Regions from separate parts of the Homo sapiens genome. Here region 2 is linked to region 1. A link means that fine-mapping ties the variant in region 1 to the expression of a gene that starts in the linked region. Tissue or cell type: cerebral cortex. Region 1 holds a variant in brackets; the other region holds the start of a gene. All regions are shown on one strand. Distances are between the middles of the regions.

The links. PIP is the estimated chance that this variant, and not a neighbour inherited with it, causes the effect.
Region 2: LINC02689 starts here. The variant in region 1 is fine-mapped to the expression of LINC02689 in cerebral cortex (GTEx, PIP above 0.99).

What each region holds. Positions count from the first base shown.
Region 1 is chr11:1,435,304-1,443,355 of GRCh38, reverse strand. BRSK2 (BR serine/threonine kinase 2) reads right to left here. Exons shown (of 20, transcript NM_001256627.2): 2 at 7,222-7,316; 3 at 4,965-5,050; 4 at 2,428-2,568; 5 at 750-866; 6 at 217-250; 7 at 1-21. Among named protein-coding and RNA genes, the nearest start is that of MOB2, 47 kb to the left of the region's middle. RefSeq lists an enhancer at 5,770-6,508. The variant G/A (reference allele first, on the strand shown) is at 3,211.
Region 2 is chr11:1,346,163-1,354,214 of GRCh38, reverse strand. It overlaps LINC02689 (long intergenic non-protein coding RNA 2689), which reads right to left and starts at 3,908. Exons shown (of 5, transcript XR_930972.2): 1 at 3,453-3,908. RefSeq lists enhancers at 61-808, 5,089-5,641.

The sequences.
Region 1 (8,052 bases):
CCGGCCGTCATACTTCTCCCCCTGTGGACAGCAGTGCCCGGGCTGTTGGGGGGCGCAGGGCAGGGCGGGGGCCTTGGAGGGCCTGGGCTCAGAGGGAGTCGGCCCGGGGACAGGCAGCCTAGCAGCACCTGGGGGTGCGGCAGGCTGGGGTCCCACCAGGGTCAGGTCCCCGCCACCCTGGGCCCCACAGAGCTGCACGCGGCGGCGCTGACTCACCCGGATCACCTCGGGGCAGGCGTAGTGGGGGGACCTGCGGGCAAGGGCAGAGGTCAGCGGCGGGGCTCCGGGCGCTGCCAGGCCCTCCCCCCAGGGTGATGGTGCACCGCAGGGCCCTCAAGGAGGCCTCCAGGGCTGTGGTGCCAGACGCCCCCACATTCCCTGCATCCCCAGGCGGGCTTTTGGGAGGAGATCAAGGTGGGGCACTGGGTCTCTGCTGCGCCCAAAGCTGTCTGCCCACTCGGCTGGGCAGGGGCCAGGGGGTCCCCAGGAGAGGGGCATGTAAGTGGGTCCCAGCCTCTCTCCCAGGCAGGCCAGGGCCAGGGCTGTACCCCTACCCTTACTGTGCCGGGAGGCCTGTCTCCCCACCACCACCAGGCTGTGGGGTACTGGGAGGCTCAGGCACATTGTGGGGGGCCTGCCTGTGGGGTGCCGGGAGGCTCAGGCAGGCTGGGGGCCTCTCAGTCCACTGGCTCCTCTTCCCCCAGCCCAGCCTGTCCCCCAGCCTCTCTCCAGGGCAGAGGGCCACGTACCCACAGCTGGTCTCCAACAGGCTGTCGCCAACCTGCAGGGACGCCATGCCAAAGTCTGCGATGCGGATGTTGTTCTTCTCGTCCAGCAGGAGGTTTTCAGGTTTCAGATCCCTGTGGCTGGGGAGGAGGGTGGTGAGGCTGAACAGGGCCAGTCTCTGCCTTGAGCGCCTCCCCGCCCTGGAGACCCCCTGCCCAGAGCCCACTGCCTCTCCAAACGCCAATCACACATAAGGGCCAATAGCAGCCCAGCCTGGTGATGTCATAGGCAGCCAATCAGAAGTCGCCTGCCTGGTCCGTTTGGCTCTGGCCTTTGGTCAGGCATCCCTGTTTCTCCTGCCATGCCCTCCTGCACCCTGGCAGGCTCCTTCCTGCCCCCTCCTGCTCCCTAGCACACCTGCTCTGGCCTAGACCAACCTAGGGCCCCCAGGCACGTAGGGATGCAAGCAATGGCCCCTGGAAAGGCCGAGGGGCTCCCAGAGTGCTTGGGTGGGTGCCAGGCAGAAAACTTCCCGACACACTGCCCACTCGGGAAAGGGGAGGTGCAGGGGGTCCTCAGGGGGAAAAGGGAAGCACCTGGTGCACATGGTGCACTTGAGAGGTAGCTAATGGGGTGGGGGGGACAGTGCACTTGAGGGGTAGCTAATGGGGGGGACGGTGCACTTGAGGGGCAGCTAATGAGGAGGGGATGATGCACCTGAGGGGTAGCTAATGAGGGGGATGGTGCACTTGAGGGGTAGCTAATGGGGGGACGGTGCACTTGAGGGGTAGCTAATGGGGTGGACGGTGCACTTGAGGGGTAGCTAATGGGGTGGACGGTGCACTTGAGGGGTAGCTAATGGGGGGGAGGGGATGGTGCACTTGAGGAGTAGCTAATGGGGGGGACGGTGCACCTGAGGGGCCACTATGGGGGGACAGTGCACTTGAGGGGCAGCTAATGGGGGGGATGGTGCACTTGAGGGGCAGCTAATGAGGAGGGGATGATGCACCTGAGGGGTAGCTAATGAGGGGGATGGTGCACTTGAGGGGTAGCTAATGGGGGGACGGTGCACTTGAGGGGTAGCTAATGGGGTGGACGGTGCACTTGAGGGGTAGCTAATGGGGTGGACGGTGCACTTGAGGGGTAGCTAATGGGGGGGAGGGGATGGTGCACTTGAGGAGTAGCTAATGGGGGGGACGGTGCACCTGAGGGGCCACTATGGGGGGACAGTGCACTTGAGGGGCAGCTAATGGGGGGCACGGTGCACTTGAGGGGCCGCTAATGGGGGGGATGGTGCACTTGAGGGGTAGTTAATGGGGGGGATGGTGCACTTGAGGGGCAGCTAATGGGGGGGAGGGTGCACTTGAGGGGCCGCTAATGGGGGGGACGGTGCACTTGAGGGGTAGTTAATGGGGGGGATGGTGCACTTGAGGGGCCGCTATGGGGGGACGGTGCACTTGAGGGGCAGCTAATGGGGGGACGGTGCACTTGAGGGGTAGCTAATGGAGGGGACAGTGCACTTGAGGGGCAGCTAATGGGGAGGAGGAGATGGTGCACTTGAGGGGCAGCTAATGGGGGGCATGGTGTACCTCGGAATAGCACCATAGGGGGTGTAGTCCTTGGGGCACAGGGGGCATCTGTGGTAGCGCACTGGGTGTGGGGGTCCCTGGGGAGTGGGGGGCACCAGGGGTGGGGCCTCACCATATGGAGTGGCTGTGGCAGAAGTCCAGCGCAGAGATGATCTGCCGGAAGAACTTCCGAGCCTCCTTAGGCGTCAGCCTCCCCTTCTTCACCAGGTAGTCGAAGAGCTCACCACCTGACACGTGTTCTAGCACCAGGTACCTGCAGGAGACGGGGCCACCAGTGCGCCCAGCTGTGGCTGCCCGCCGCCCCTCCTCATCCCAGGGCCTCCCACAGCCGCCTCCTGGCCCAGCCTCTCTGCAGGCCGCCCCCATCCTCTTGCTGGCTGGGGGGGCAGCTGAGAGGAGCCCTGACTATGGTGGATCTCAAACCATCTGGGCTCCTGGGGGTGGACCTCAAATGAGTCTTCAAGGAGCCTGGGTTGGGGTGGGGTGGGGTGAGGGTGGAGGGACAGGTGAAGGGATGGTTCTGGGGGCACAGCCGCCAGGGAGGGTTTGGAACCCACAGGCTGAGTGTGGCGGGTGCTGGGGCCAAGGCTCGGTGCATGGGGTAGCCTCGGGACTCTGCCCTGCCTGCTCTGGCCCTCACACCCTGTGGTCCTCAGTGGCACAGGCACCGAGCAGGGAGACCACGCAGCCGCATCCAGGGGCCCAGGGACTGTCTGGGCCTCTGTGGGGGGAACAGGAGGTGTGAGGGCCAGGGGAAGGGGGTGAGGAAAAGGTTGGCCTGGCCCTCCCCTTCCTGCCCTGGTGGGCTCCCAGCACCGCCCCCGTGGGGTCTCAGCCACATGGAGGGTCCTGAGGGGCTGGTTCCTGGTGAGAGGCCCGTGGGACGCTGCATGCA[G/A]CTGCTTGGGGGCCGCTCCACCCAGGCTGAACCAGCTCGGGGGGGAGGCCTGTGAGGGTGGTGGCCCCTGGTGTGGCTGTGGTGATGTAGGGGGGCTGTACAGCCAAGGGGGTGGCACCTTGGTGCATGCTCAGAGCTGCCGTGCGGACTGGGATGACTGGCTGTCCCAGGAGCTGGTTTTGGCAGGAGTCAAGGGCCCAGTGTGGGGATGGGAGCAGAGGTTGTGGTGAAGCCCCCAGGGCAGGGGAAGGTGTGAAGCCCCCAGGGCAGGGGAAGATATGAAGCCCCCAGGGCAGGGGAAGGTGTGAAGCCCTCAGGGCAGGGGAGGGTGTGAAGCCCCCAGGGCAGGGGAAGGTGTGAAGCCCTCAGGGCAGAGGAAGGTGTGAAGCCCTCAGGGCAGGGGAAGGTGGTGGGGGCCAGGGTGGGATTCTGGGCAGGGGGGCGGCCAGGCCCAAGGCTCAGCATAGGCCACATGGTGTCCAGAGGGGGTGGGACAACACCCAGGGCCAGACCTCGGGAGAAGCCGCGAGCCCGGCCATGCCCACCTCCTGGGCTCTTTCCTGTTCTTGGGCCTTGGCCTGCTGTGCCCATCCCCCCCGCACTCCCCTGCCCTCCCCTCCGAGAAGGCCTCCCCAGGACCCCACTGCACCGGCACCGTGTCACCATGAGGAAGCCATGCCCCTTGTCACAGTCCACCTTGCCAGCATCAGGGCCAGGACCACCCCCGCCCCCCCAGTCCTCTGGTGACAGTTTCTGAGCCCCTGCTCATGGTGGGGCAGGCGGGCTCCCCACACCCCAACCCTGGGTTTCCTCTCCCCAGCTACACACGAGCTGGCCACCTGCACATGCTCCCCACGAGAATGCAGAAACCCAGGCCAGAGCAAGCGTGGACGTTGCTGCTGGGGGAAGGGGAGCTGCTGGGTTCAGCCAGGCCCTCAGCCAGCTCACCCTGAGGGCAGCCCCCAGCCCAGCCCTGTATGTTCCCTGCTCCCTCAGAGCCTGATGCCTCAGAGATGCCCGGCTAGGATCACCTGGCAGGTCACGCCGCCGCCCTGGGACCAGCGAGGGTCAGATGAGGCTCAAGGCCAGACAGCCCTTGGGCAGCAGCGCCTCATCTGTCAGAAAGCCCCATCAGAGCACACAGAGGAGACTGCCGTGAGTGACCACTGTGCCCATTCCCAGGAGCTCCCTGAGGCTGGGTCTGGGGGGATGGGGTTCACAGCCAGGCATGCCTGGGACAGGGTAGGGATTTCTGCTGGCCTCAGCGGCTGCGGAGGTGACACTTTCAGCCACACTCAGCCACGGTCCAGCCAGGGCGGGATCCTGGTGGCTGTGCCTCGTGTGAGGGAGCCTCAGGGATAGAGACATGGCTCACTGCCCAGGGCTGGGGACGTCCTGGGCAGAGGCCAGGAGGCTCAGCGTGGCCATGTGGGGAGGGCCAGGTGCTCCTGCCCCTTGCCCTGAAACTCCTATCTCCCCTCCAGAAGGTCCTGTTCCCCCTTGCCAGCCTCAGGCTGGTGGCTCTGCGAGCCTCCACAGACCAGGTCTCCGGTTTGGTCCAGAAGCAGAGACCACAGCAGCCTGGGCTGAGACCCTACCCAGGCAGGTGTTCATGCTAGCAGGGCCAGGGCTGCTGGGATGCAGCAGGCGCCCCTGGCCTCCAGCCCCTGTGCTCCCCAAGCCCCAGACACCCACCCCTGCAGCGACAGCTGCCACCTCCGCCACCCCAGCTCTTCAGACCCAGCAATACCTACAAATATTTTTTGTTTTCATAAACGTCGTGCAGCTTTAGGACGTGGGGGTGCTCAATGAGCTTCAGGATCGCGATCTCCCGCTCCACCTGCATGGGAGAGGCCAGAGAACATCACGCTCACAGGGCTGGGGCACGCATCGCTCCCCACAGACACTGCCTTTGGTGCCAGCTGTGGGGGTCGCAGGGGCCTTTGGTGCCAGCTGTGGGGGTCGCAGGGGCCTTTGGTGCCAGCTGTGGGGGACGCAGGGGCCTTTGGTGCCAGCTGTGGGGGACGCAGGGGCCTTTGGTGCCAGCTGTGGGGGACGCAGGGGCCTTTGGTGCCAGCTGTGGGGGACGCAGGGGCCTTTGGTGCCAGCTGTGGGGGATGCAGGGACGTGGGCTGCTCAGCTGGGGCCCTGGCTGGTGGAGAGGGCAGAGGGCAGGGGCCTCAGTGGAGGGAGCCCAGGCCGCCGGGCTGACACCAGCCTGTAGGGCTGAGGACTGGGGGCCCCTGGAGCAGGAGGGCCCCTCCCCACACTGCCCAGGAAGGCAGGCAGCCTGGGCCTCTCTGTGAGCCCAGCCTCAGGAATGGGGCCTGGAGCTGTTGGAGATAAGGCCTCCCAGGCTCCCAGCCAGTCGGATGCAGGGCCCTTCCAGGCAGGCTGTGCCTGGGCTCCGCCCTTCCTTACGGTGGAGGCCTCACAGGAGGAGGGGCCGGGACAGGCCTCTGTGGGCCCCATGAGGTGGGGGCAGGCATCCTGTTGTGTGTGGGACATACAGTAGGTGTGCAGGCCGTGGGCAGGGCACGTGCCCCCCATCCACAGGCTCCCAGCTGGTACTGTCCCCCAAGTGGGGAGGGCCCCAGGGAGGGGCAGAAGTGACCCCAGAGGGCACCTGACTCAGGACACCCAGTCCTGCTCCGAGGTAAGGGCAGGGCCCCCTCCCTCAGACATGCAAGCCTGGCCACGGGCAGCTGGTGCTCCGCCCAGCACAAAGAAGTGGCCGTGTCAGTGGTGGGGCCAGTGAGGCCACGGCCTGGGGTCCCAGCCCTCAGGAGCCAGCGTGGACCAGGCTTTGGAGCTAGGGCCAGTCTTGTGATGGGGTCCCAGCCCTGGCGAGTTGGCCAGCCTGTCCCCAAGTCCTTCCCTCCCAGGCGGACATCTGTGCACAGCGCCTGCAGGTGACAGGGACACCTCCCCTTTCCCGCATCCCCAGGCCCTCCTTTAGTCGGGGCTCACAGGCACCTCCCAAATTCAGCATGGGACTCTCCCCAGCTACGCCCCGCACTGGATCTCTCTGCCAGGCGCTGTCCTGGCCCCATCACTCCCAGGGCCTCTGTTTCTCCTCCAAGGCAGGGTGGGACCCTGCCAGCCCCATCCAGGCAGCCCTCAGCAGCCCTTAACCCCACCCCCACCTCCCCATAGGGTCCCCAGGCCTCCCCAGTTTAGTCTGGTTAATTCCTCCACACCCCAGCAGCTGGGGGGTGCCCAACATGTCACAGTCCCCAACCCTTAGCACCTTCCACAAGCCTCCCCTCTCTTGGCCACTCCCACTGGCCTCGTCCCCGGGTCCTGCCCCACCCGCAGCCCTGCATGCCAAGGAGCGAATGGAGAGGAAGGGAGAGGAGGGGGCTCGACTGGCCCCAGTGCTGGGAGGGTCGCACGCTGCCAGCCCAGGTCCCACTGTGGGTGGGACCCGGAGCAGCTGGGAGCCCCAGCCTCTTCCTCTACACCCAGGGTCAGGCTTCCCAGCAGCCGGGGCCGCCCCCTCCCCACTGAGAGGTGGGTCACAGCCCAGAAACCCTCCACCCAGGGGGCCTGCCTGGTCTCCATGGTGACCAGACACCACCGGATGGAGCCGACGGAGGCCAGGCCCCAGTGGAAGAGGAAGGTGCAGCTCCCCTCTGCCAAGCTGTGCCCTGGTAGGAGAGGGGTGCTCTGAGGCAGGGAACTCCTCTCCATTCTAGCTGGGAACACTGAAGCCCCGCCTGCTAGCACAGCAGGTCCTGCAGCAACTGAACTGCCCAGCTGCAGCCTGTCCCCTCAGGGGTGCCCACTCTGCTTGGAGGCAGGAGAAAGGTGGGCAGGGCTGGAGGGAGGAGCAAGAGCAAAGGCACCCTACCAGGGGACCAGCAGGGGTGTGGCGGCCCAGGAGCCTGCAGGGCCCGCCCCCCCACCCGCATCCAGCACCGCAGGTCCCCACAACCTTGGCTCCCACCCCTGTGCTATTCCCCGCCCCACCCCACCGCCGGCCCCGCCTCCCTCCCCGGCCCCACCCACCTTCATCAGCACCGACTCGCTGAGCTTCTCACGGTTGACGATCTTGATGGCCACCTTCTGGCAGGTGACGCAGTGAACCCCCAGCTTCACCAGACCTGCGGGAGAGAAGCAGCCGCGCTCAGACCCACCCAGGGTGCCTGCAGCGAGCACCCAGCCGGACAGTGCAGGTTGGGGGCCTCCTCCCACGTCCTGGACAGCAGGGGTCCCACCCGCTCCAGGGCCGGAGGCCCCTGCCCGCCTGGGTCGCTGTCCAGAACAGCTCAGTGCTGGCGTCACGCTGCCCCTGCAAAGCTGTGTCTTCCCTCCACGCCGGCCCTTTGGGCTTCTCAGGTCTCTGTGGCCCCCCTCGCCCTCTCCCCATCCCAAGGCACCCAAATCCCCTCCCTTCAGCCTTCAGCCACCCTCAGCTGGGAGCCAGGGTGCCCTCGAGGTGCCTGCCTGGCCCAAGAAGGCTGTCCCCCGCACACCCTGCCGAGACCCCCACCTGCAGCCTTCTGCAGAGATACCTCAGCCGCAGCCCTCCGCCGAGACCCCCACCGACACCCCTCCTCCGCCGAGACCCCCACCGGCACCCCTCCTCCGCCGAGACCCCCACCGGCACCCCTCCTCCGCCGAGACCCCCACCGGCACCCCTCCTCCGCCGAGACCCCCACCGGCACCCCTCCTCCGCCGAGACCCCCACCGGCACCCCTCCTCCGCCGAGACCCCCACCGGCACCCCTCCTCCGCCGAGACCCCCACCGGCACCCCTCCTCCGCCGAGACCCCCACCGGCACCCCTCCTCCGCCGAGACCCCCACCGGCACCCCTCCTCCGCCGAGACCCCCACCGGC
Region 2 (8,052 bases), 89 kb after region 1:
GCAGGGCAGCAGGCAGGTGGTGAAGGATGCACCTATGGTGATGGCTTAGACAGGAACTGGAGGGGCAGGCCCTGCCGCTTTTGTGGCCAGGATCTCCCCAGTCTCTGCCACTCCGGCCGCCACAGCAAAACACCCCCGTCGGCGGCTTCAAGCAACCGACATTTAGCTCACAGCTCTGGAGACTGTGAGTCTAACAGGCCCCGGCAGACTGTGGTTCACAGCCAGCGCCTCCTGGCCACATCCGAACGTAATGAAGCGGTGAGGGGCTCTCTGAGGTCCCTTTTGTCTGGGCACTAATCCATTTACGAGGCCGACCCTCACGGCCAGACCCGCCCAAAGGCCCCTCCTCCCAATAGCATCACCTTGGCAGTGAAGGTTTCAACAGAAGAATTTCTGGGGATAGACGTTCGGGCCATGGTGACCTCTCTGGGGGTGCCCCTCAGTGTGAGAAGGACGGAGAGAAGGCGCCGGCTCCACAGGTAGCTGCGGATTCACATTCCAGGCGGAGGTGCTGGGGCAGAGGCAGGGACGGGTGTCTGGGTGTGATCTAGATCCTGAAGGGAGGCCCGGGGGCCAAGCAAGGCGGCTGGAGCGGCCCCAGCACCATGGAGGCCACTCACTCACAGGCTCTCAGAGGCATTGGGCTTGATGCCCCCCAGGCTGTCCTGTGGGTCGGGCACCGCAGTAGGGCTGGGAAGACCAGGCCTGGCCCTGGCCGGCCCAAAGCAGGAAAATGGGTCGGCAGGTGGAACGTTTGCCCTTTGAGGGAACTGGGGCTGAGGTAGGCAGGGAGGTGGCACTCTGCTCCGTGGGCTGGAAAGAGCCCTGGGAAAGGGGGAGAAGAGCCACGTGCAGCCACGGCCATGCTGAGTCCAGACCCAGGACCAGCAGGGGTGGCTGAGGAAATGAGATGCAGAGAGGTGGTCATATAGTGACTAGAGGAGGGGGTGGTCTTGGATGGGGCGTCTTGGATGCAGGGTCTTGGATGGTGGGTGTAGACACATTTTTTGAGACAATTTGCTATGAATAGAAGAAAATTAGGGAGTTGCTAGAGGGGTTCCATGTTCCAGGAGGCACTGTGACAGGCAAGAGGGGGTGGGGGACCTGGTGTAGGCCTGGGAGGGGAGTCGGCGGGGATGAGGGGTAGGGGATGGGGGTCCAGGTGTGAGGCCTGGGAGGGGAGTCGGTGGGGATGAGGGTGAGGGTGGGGGTCCAGGTGTGAGGCCTGGGAGGGGAGTCAGTGGGGATGAGGGGTGAGGGTGGGGGTCCAGGTGTGAGGCCTGGGAGGGGAGTCATTGGGGGTGGGGGTCCAGGTGTGAGGCCTGGGAGGGGAGTCGGTGGGGATGAGGGGTGGGGGTGGGGGTCCAGGTGTGAGGCCTGGGATGGAAGTTGGTGGGGGTGGGGGGTGGGGGGTCCAGGTGTGAGGCCTGGGAAGGGAGTCAGTGGGGATGAGGGGTGGGGGGTGGGGGGTCGAGGTGTGAGGCCTGGGAGGGGAGTTGGTGGGGGTGGGGGTCCAGGTGTGAGGCCTGGGATGGAAGTTGGTGGGGGTGGGGGGTCCAGGTGTGAGGCCTGGGAGGGGAGTTGGTGGGGGTGGGGGTCCAGGCATGGGGCCTGGGAGGGGAGTCAGTGGGGGTGGGGGTCCAGGTGTAAGGCCTGGGAGGGGAGTTGGTGGGTGTGGGGTTCCAGGTGTGAGGCCTGGAAGGGGAATTGGTGGGGGCAGGGGTCTAGGTGGGAGGCCTAGAAGGGGAGTGGGTGGGGGTCCGGGTGTGAGGCCTGGGAGGGGAGTTGGTGGGGGTGGGGGGTCCAGGTGTGAGGCCTGGGAGGGGAGTTGGTGGGGGTGGGGGGTCCAGGTATGAGGCCTGGGAGGGGAGTTGGTGGGGGTGGGGGGTCCAGGTATGAGGCCTGGGAGGGGAGTTGGTGGGGGTGGGGGTCCAGGTGTGAGGCCTGGGATGGAAGTTGGTGGGGGTGGGGGGTCCAGGTGTGAGGCCTGGGAGGGGAGTTGGTGGGGGTGGGGGTCCAGGCATGGGGCCTGGGAGGGGAGTCAGTGGGGGTGGGGGTCCAGGTGTAAGGCCTGGGAGGGGAGTTGGTGGGTGTGGGGTTCCAGGTGTGAGGCCTGGAAGGGGAATTGGTGGGGGCAGGGGTCTAGGTGGGAGGCCTAGAAGGGGAGTGGGTGGGGGTCCGGGTGTGAGGCCTGGGAGGGGAGTTGGTGGGGGTGGGGGGTCCAGGTATGAGGCCTGGGAGGGGAGTTGGTGGGGGTCCAGGCATGGGGCCTGGGAGGGGAGTCAGTGGGGGTGGGGGTCCAGGTGTGAGGCCTGGAAGGGGAATTGGTGGGGGCAGGGGTCTAGGTGGGAGGCCTAGGAGGGGAGTGGGGGTCTGGGTGGGAGGCCTGGGAGGGGAGTTGGTGGGGGTGGGGGGTCCAGGTGTGAGACCTGGGAGAAAAGCTAGCAGAGGCAGAGGGTTTAATCCACCCACCTCGCAAGAGTGTCAGGAACAACAGGTCATTTCTCAAAGGCAGTGAGGCATAGAGGTTGGAGATCAGACCTCACATCACACTGAGGGTGATCCCGGTAATTACAAATTACATTTGCAACAGATCAGTACACAGAGAACATTTAAATAGAACATAATTAGTACGCTCAGAAAAATCGGTAAAACACATAATTAGTAAGCTCAGAAAAATGGTAAAACACAGAAATACTAATGAAAACAAACACATCTGCATATTCCAGTGCGGCCGAGCTTCTGTGAGAGACCCGTTGCCGTTCGCAAGTCCGAGGTGATTCAACCTTTTAAAGCCAAGGTCAGCGTGATTCTTCCAGGATAATGAGAACATCGACACCATTTGACTCAGGATTATAGTTTCTGGGCCAAATTTTAAGGAAACAATCCCTAAGGAGAAACAATTGTTTTCTCCTTTCCATGTTAGAGTGTTAGCTCTAAGAGTCAATATTACTAGCCTAAGAGTCAATATTACTAGCCTGGGTGCAGTGGCTCACACCTGTAATCCCAGCACTTTGGGAGGCCGAGGCAGGCGGATCGCCTGAGGTTGGGAGTTTGAGACCAGCCTGGACAACATGGTGAAACCCCGTATCCACTAAAAGTTAAAAAAAAAGTAGCTGTGTGCATTGGTGTGTTCCTGTAGTCCCAGCTACTTGGGAGGTTGAGGCAGGAGAATCACTTGAACCCGGGAGGCAGAGGTTGCAGTGAGCTGAGATCACACTACTGCACTCCAGCCTGGGCAACAGAGCATGACTATCTCAAAAAAAAAAAAAAAAGAAAAAGAAAACAAATGAGAGTAAACATGATTGGAAATCACTCAAGTGTCCACAGTAAAAGAATGGTTGGGCAGATTACGGTACATTCACTTAAAATCCTATGCCATTGGGGATATATTGTCATAATGCCGAAGGGAAAATGAAAAATTACAGTGGCCAGCGTTTTACGACACTCACCATGGGTCAAGAATGCTCCGTGTTGAACTCATTTAATCTTCACAAAGGTCCAAGGAGTAGCTTTGATCGGTCCCCACCTTTATGAATCAGGAAATGAAATCTCGTGCCCACAGTCACACAGCCCGTGAGCTGCAGATCCCAGGCCCACCCTCCCTGGCCTCTTGTGGTCCCAGCCTTGGGGTCAACTCTCTCCCACGCAGCTGGAAGGCTCGAGAACGGAGAACTCTTCAGAAAACTGTTTCCTGGGCAGAGAAGGGCCAGCTGGAGGGAGAGGAGCCCAGGGGAGCTGACCAAGACCACACGTCTGGGGTGTCGCTGCCTGGTTTACACCTGGTCCTATGGGTGGGGCGGGTACCAGAGGGTTTGAGCCTGACCGGTCAGGTGGGCCTGGCTGGGTGGTGTCCACTGCTGTGGGGGCCTCCACGTGGGAGGAGAAATTCCCAGAGCCAAAGAGGAGTGTGGTCCCAGAGCACGGCTCCCGGGCGCCAACCTTGGGGGAAGCGGAGGAGGCTCCCAGGCCAACCCTGGGGGAGGTGGAGGAGGCATGGGGAGAGGGTTGGGCAGCAGTGCAGGGAGGGTTGTCAGAGCCAGGGCGGGGCGGCCTCGCCCTCCCACATCAGCCTCGCTGCCTGCCGGGGGTCAGGGCGCCAGGGCCTCTCCTGGGGCTACGACTGCACCCGGAGCCGTCAGATTCTCCCAGGCAGAGGAGCCAGGTCCAGGACCCTCTCATTCTGCAGGGCTCTGCGGAGCATGGGGGCAGGTAGGGGAGGGCAGCAGGACCCTCAGAAATGGACGGACTCGGGCTGGACCCGTAAGATGTGGCTGCACCCAGGCTGAAGCCAGCTGTGCTCTGGGAACAGCTGGGGAAAGGAGCTGTGTCCCCCGGGGCCATCGTTCCCTCTGTCGGGGGCTTTGACTGCCGGAGAAGAGGGAAGGGAGGAGTTATCCGGCAGGACCAGGGTGGGCACAGGTGGCCTCTGAGACCCTGTCTTTGTGCGTTGCTCTCCATGCAGCGACGTGGCTGGAAAACCAGAGCCCTCGCCAGGAGAGAGTGAGGCTTGACAGACAGCGCCTCTCCCTCCGCAGGGCACCGGCCCTGAGATGGTACAGGAGCAAATCTACCCACTGGGCCCCAGGCTGGCCGCCGCATAGGAGGGGCTGGGTCGGCCGAGACGTCTCAGAGGGAAGCTGGAGTCCCCGGAAGGTTCTGGTCCAGAGGCCCAGTGGAGGGACACACAGACCCACCCCCGAGAGCACTGAATTTGGGTCAGCGCCTGGGCCATCTGCAGCCCCGAAGCCCACACCCTGGGGTCTCCAAGCCCCCCCCAGCACAGGCTAGCGGCTCCAGGCAGAGGCTTTTCTTCCTGAGGGGTGTCTACCCGGCCCCCCGGCCTGCAGGGCAGAGTCACAGCGCAGGGCTGGCAGGCCTGGCAGGGAGGACAAAGGGACAGAGGCCGAGTCAAGACGTTGTGTCTCCCGAGCAGACGGAGCAGGTGGGGCCTCAGGCCTCCAGGGCCGCAGGAGTCATCCATCAAACTGAGTGCCCCTCATTGAAATTCTAACGGCAATGCGGCCACAGGCAGGGCTCCTCCAGGGCATGCCCTCCCTGCCTGCCTGGTGCTCCTGAGAGCCAGACCCAGGTCACAAGGTCATGAGGCCGCACGCAGAGGCCATCCCCGGGGAGCTCCGGGTGGGCGCCCTGCATGGCCTTCCTGAGGACCACACGCCCCTCCCCCAGACGCTGGACAGACACACTTCTCATGGGGAGCTGGGTTTTTCTCGGGTTCTCGGTGCCCACATGGCTCTGCCGTATATGATAAAGCATGTCCTTTGCCACCAGCTAGTGCTTTGTGTGTGTGAGTTAATCTCCCCTCCCGGGCGGAAGGATGCCGCCCTCCCCAAGCTCCCCACACGGGTCGGCCCACCCACGACCAGGGTCGGCCGCCCAGCCTGATCCACATGTAGGACCCAGCTTGGCCCCCTGTGCTCATGCAGAGTCTTGCTTTTCATTTAGTTCAGAAGGTGGGTAGGGAAGAGAGGGCTGGGGTTGATCCCTCCAGCCTCCCACAGTGTCTGAGGACCAGAGAGGGGCCCTGTGATACAGAGAGAGGGTGACGTAGAAGGGGGTGCGGTTTGCAGAACAGGCTCCTGCCAGCTGTGGCAAGGACTTGGGGTTTTATTCCAAAGGAACTCCCAACTAATCATTAGCCAGAAACACAGAATCTGGGTCATGACCCCTGCTTGGTCCCCAGCATTGTTTGGAAGTGGAGGTGAGGATGGGGGAAAGTCACAAGCGTTCCTGGCACTCTTTCTGCTTAAGCAGTGGGTGGCTGGTGGTTCTATTTACAGAGATGGTGGGGTTGAGTCTGGGGCCCTGTGGGTAGATGGGGCTGAAGACCCGGCGTGGGAAGCGAACCACAGACATGAGTGACTGTGACGGCGCTACTGACAGCCGGCATCTGGAGTGTAACATGCCAGGCATCGTCCCCGCACTTACACGGATTGTTCATGAATCCTGCTCTGCAAGCGTCTCCCTCCTATTGGAGGGAATCTCCTCAAATGAGGCCATTCCTATAACTAAGGAGGGTTGACCAGGCCCCTGAGGAGGCCGCAAGACCTCTGGAGAGGCCACAAGACTCCTGAGGAGGCCAGGAACTCCGAAGAGAAAGGGAGTGCCAGCTGAGCATGGAAAACTCAGCAAAGATGTCTTTCAAAACTGTTTCTTTGCTGTGAGGCCAGCGTGTGTCAGTGGGGTCCTCTGGACCAGCTGAGTCAACAGTTTCGTAGGTATGCAGGACCTGAAGGAATTTTTTTTTTTTGAGACGGAGTCTCCCTCTGTCACCCAGACTGGAGTGCAATGGTGCGATCTTGGCTCACTGCAGCCTCCACCTCCCGGGTTCATGCAATTCTCCTGCCTCAGCCTCCTGAGTAGCTGGGATCACAGGCACCTGCCACCAGGCCCAGCTAATGTTTGCATTTTTAGTAGAGATGGGTGGTTTTGGCCAGGCTGGTCTCAAACTCCTGACCTCAAGTGATCCACCTGTCTCGGCCTCCCAAAGTGCTGGGATGACAGGCGTGAGACACCATGCCTGGTCCGTACCCACCTTCTGAACCAAATGAAAACCAAGACACAGCCGCCACCCCATGAGGCCAAGCCGGGTCCCACGTGCGTATCTGCTGGGTGACTGCCCCGGTCCTGGGCACACATGCAGATGATCCGTGACGTGCTGTACACTGACAGGGCCACAGACAAACGTCACGTTTATTCCATCCCGGCGGACATGGAAAAGCACTGGACAAAACCCATCACCCACTTGTGATAAAAATTCTCCCACCAGGGCCAGGAAGGAGAAAGGGCAGCTCCGTGTACACCGACTCTTCACTCAGCGAATTGTTCGTGTGCGTCACTGTGGGCTCGCGGCTTTTTATTCTGTGGGTTACAATCCAGTAAACTATCACCCGGCGCGTGGGAGCTTTCATCTTGACTCCCAGGTCCCCTCCCCACAAGCCCTGCTCCCGTTCACGCATTTCCTCACGTTCCGGGACTGTGAGTGCTCCAAGCTCAGCCTGACGTTTCCCTGCCCCGGCCTTGGTGCCAGCCGAGACTCCGAGGCCTGTGGGGTCCTCTCACTGGAGGGTGACGTCGGGGACCGAGACCTGCACCCTGTGCTTCCTTTGGTACTGGGGTATCCCGGTGTCTAGGCCCTCTTGGTGGACAGAGCCAGAAGATGCATGCCTGTGTACTCACCCCCATGCACAAACAATCTACATGTGTGTAGATTGACCGTGTGAGCTCATGCTGCTGCCACCCACCCTAGGGCACACGTCCATCCTCGCCCACCCCAGCAGCACCGGCCCCTCCTCACCCACCTCAGGGGCATGGGCCCTGTCCTCACCCACCCCAGCAGCACACACCCCATCCTCACCCACCCCAGGGCACACATCCATCCTCGCCCACCCCAGCGGCATGGGCCCCTCCTCACCCACCCCAGGGGCATGGGCCCTGTCCTCACCCACCCCAACAGCACACGCCCCCTCCTCACCAGCACATGCCCCCTCCTCACCCACCCCAGGGCACACATCCATCCTCACCCACCCCAGGGCACGTGCCCCATCCTCACCCACCCCAGGGCACACGTCCATCCTCACCCACCCCAGGGCACACGTCCATCCTCACCCACCCCAGGGCACACGCCCATCCTCACCCACCCCAGGACACACGTCCATCCTCGCCCACCCCAGTGACACGGGCCCCTCCTCACCCACCCCAGGGCACACGCCCATCCTCACCCACCCCAGACGCATGGGCCCTGTCCTCACCCACCCCAGGGCACACGTCCATCCTCACCCACCCCAGCGGCACGTGCCCCATCCTCGCTCACCCAAGTGGCACACGCCCATCCTCACCCACCCCAGGGCATGCGCCCATCCTCACCCACCCCAGGGCACACGCCCATCCTCACCCACCCCAGCAGCGCGGGTCCCTCCATGCCCACCCCAGCAGTGCAGGCCTGTTCTCGTCCGCCGCTTTACCTGTTGCATCTCTTGTCTGAAGAAACCTGGCTTTCACACCTTCACCTGCTTGTCTAGTCCCAGCTGC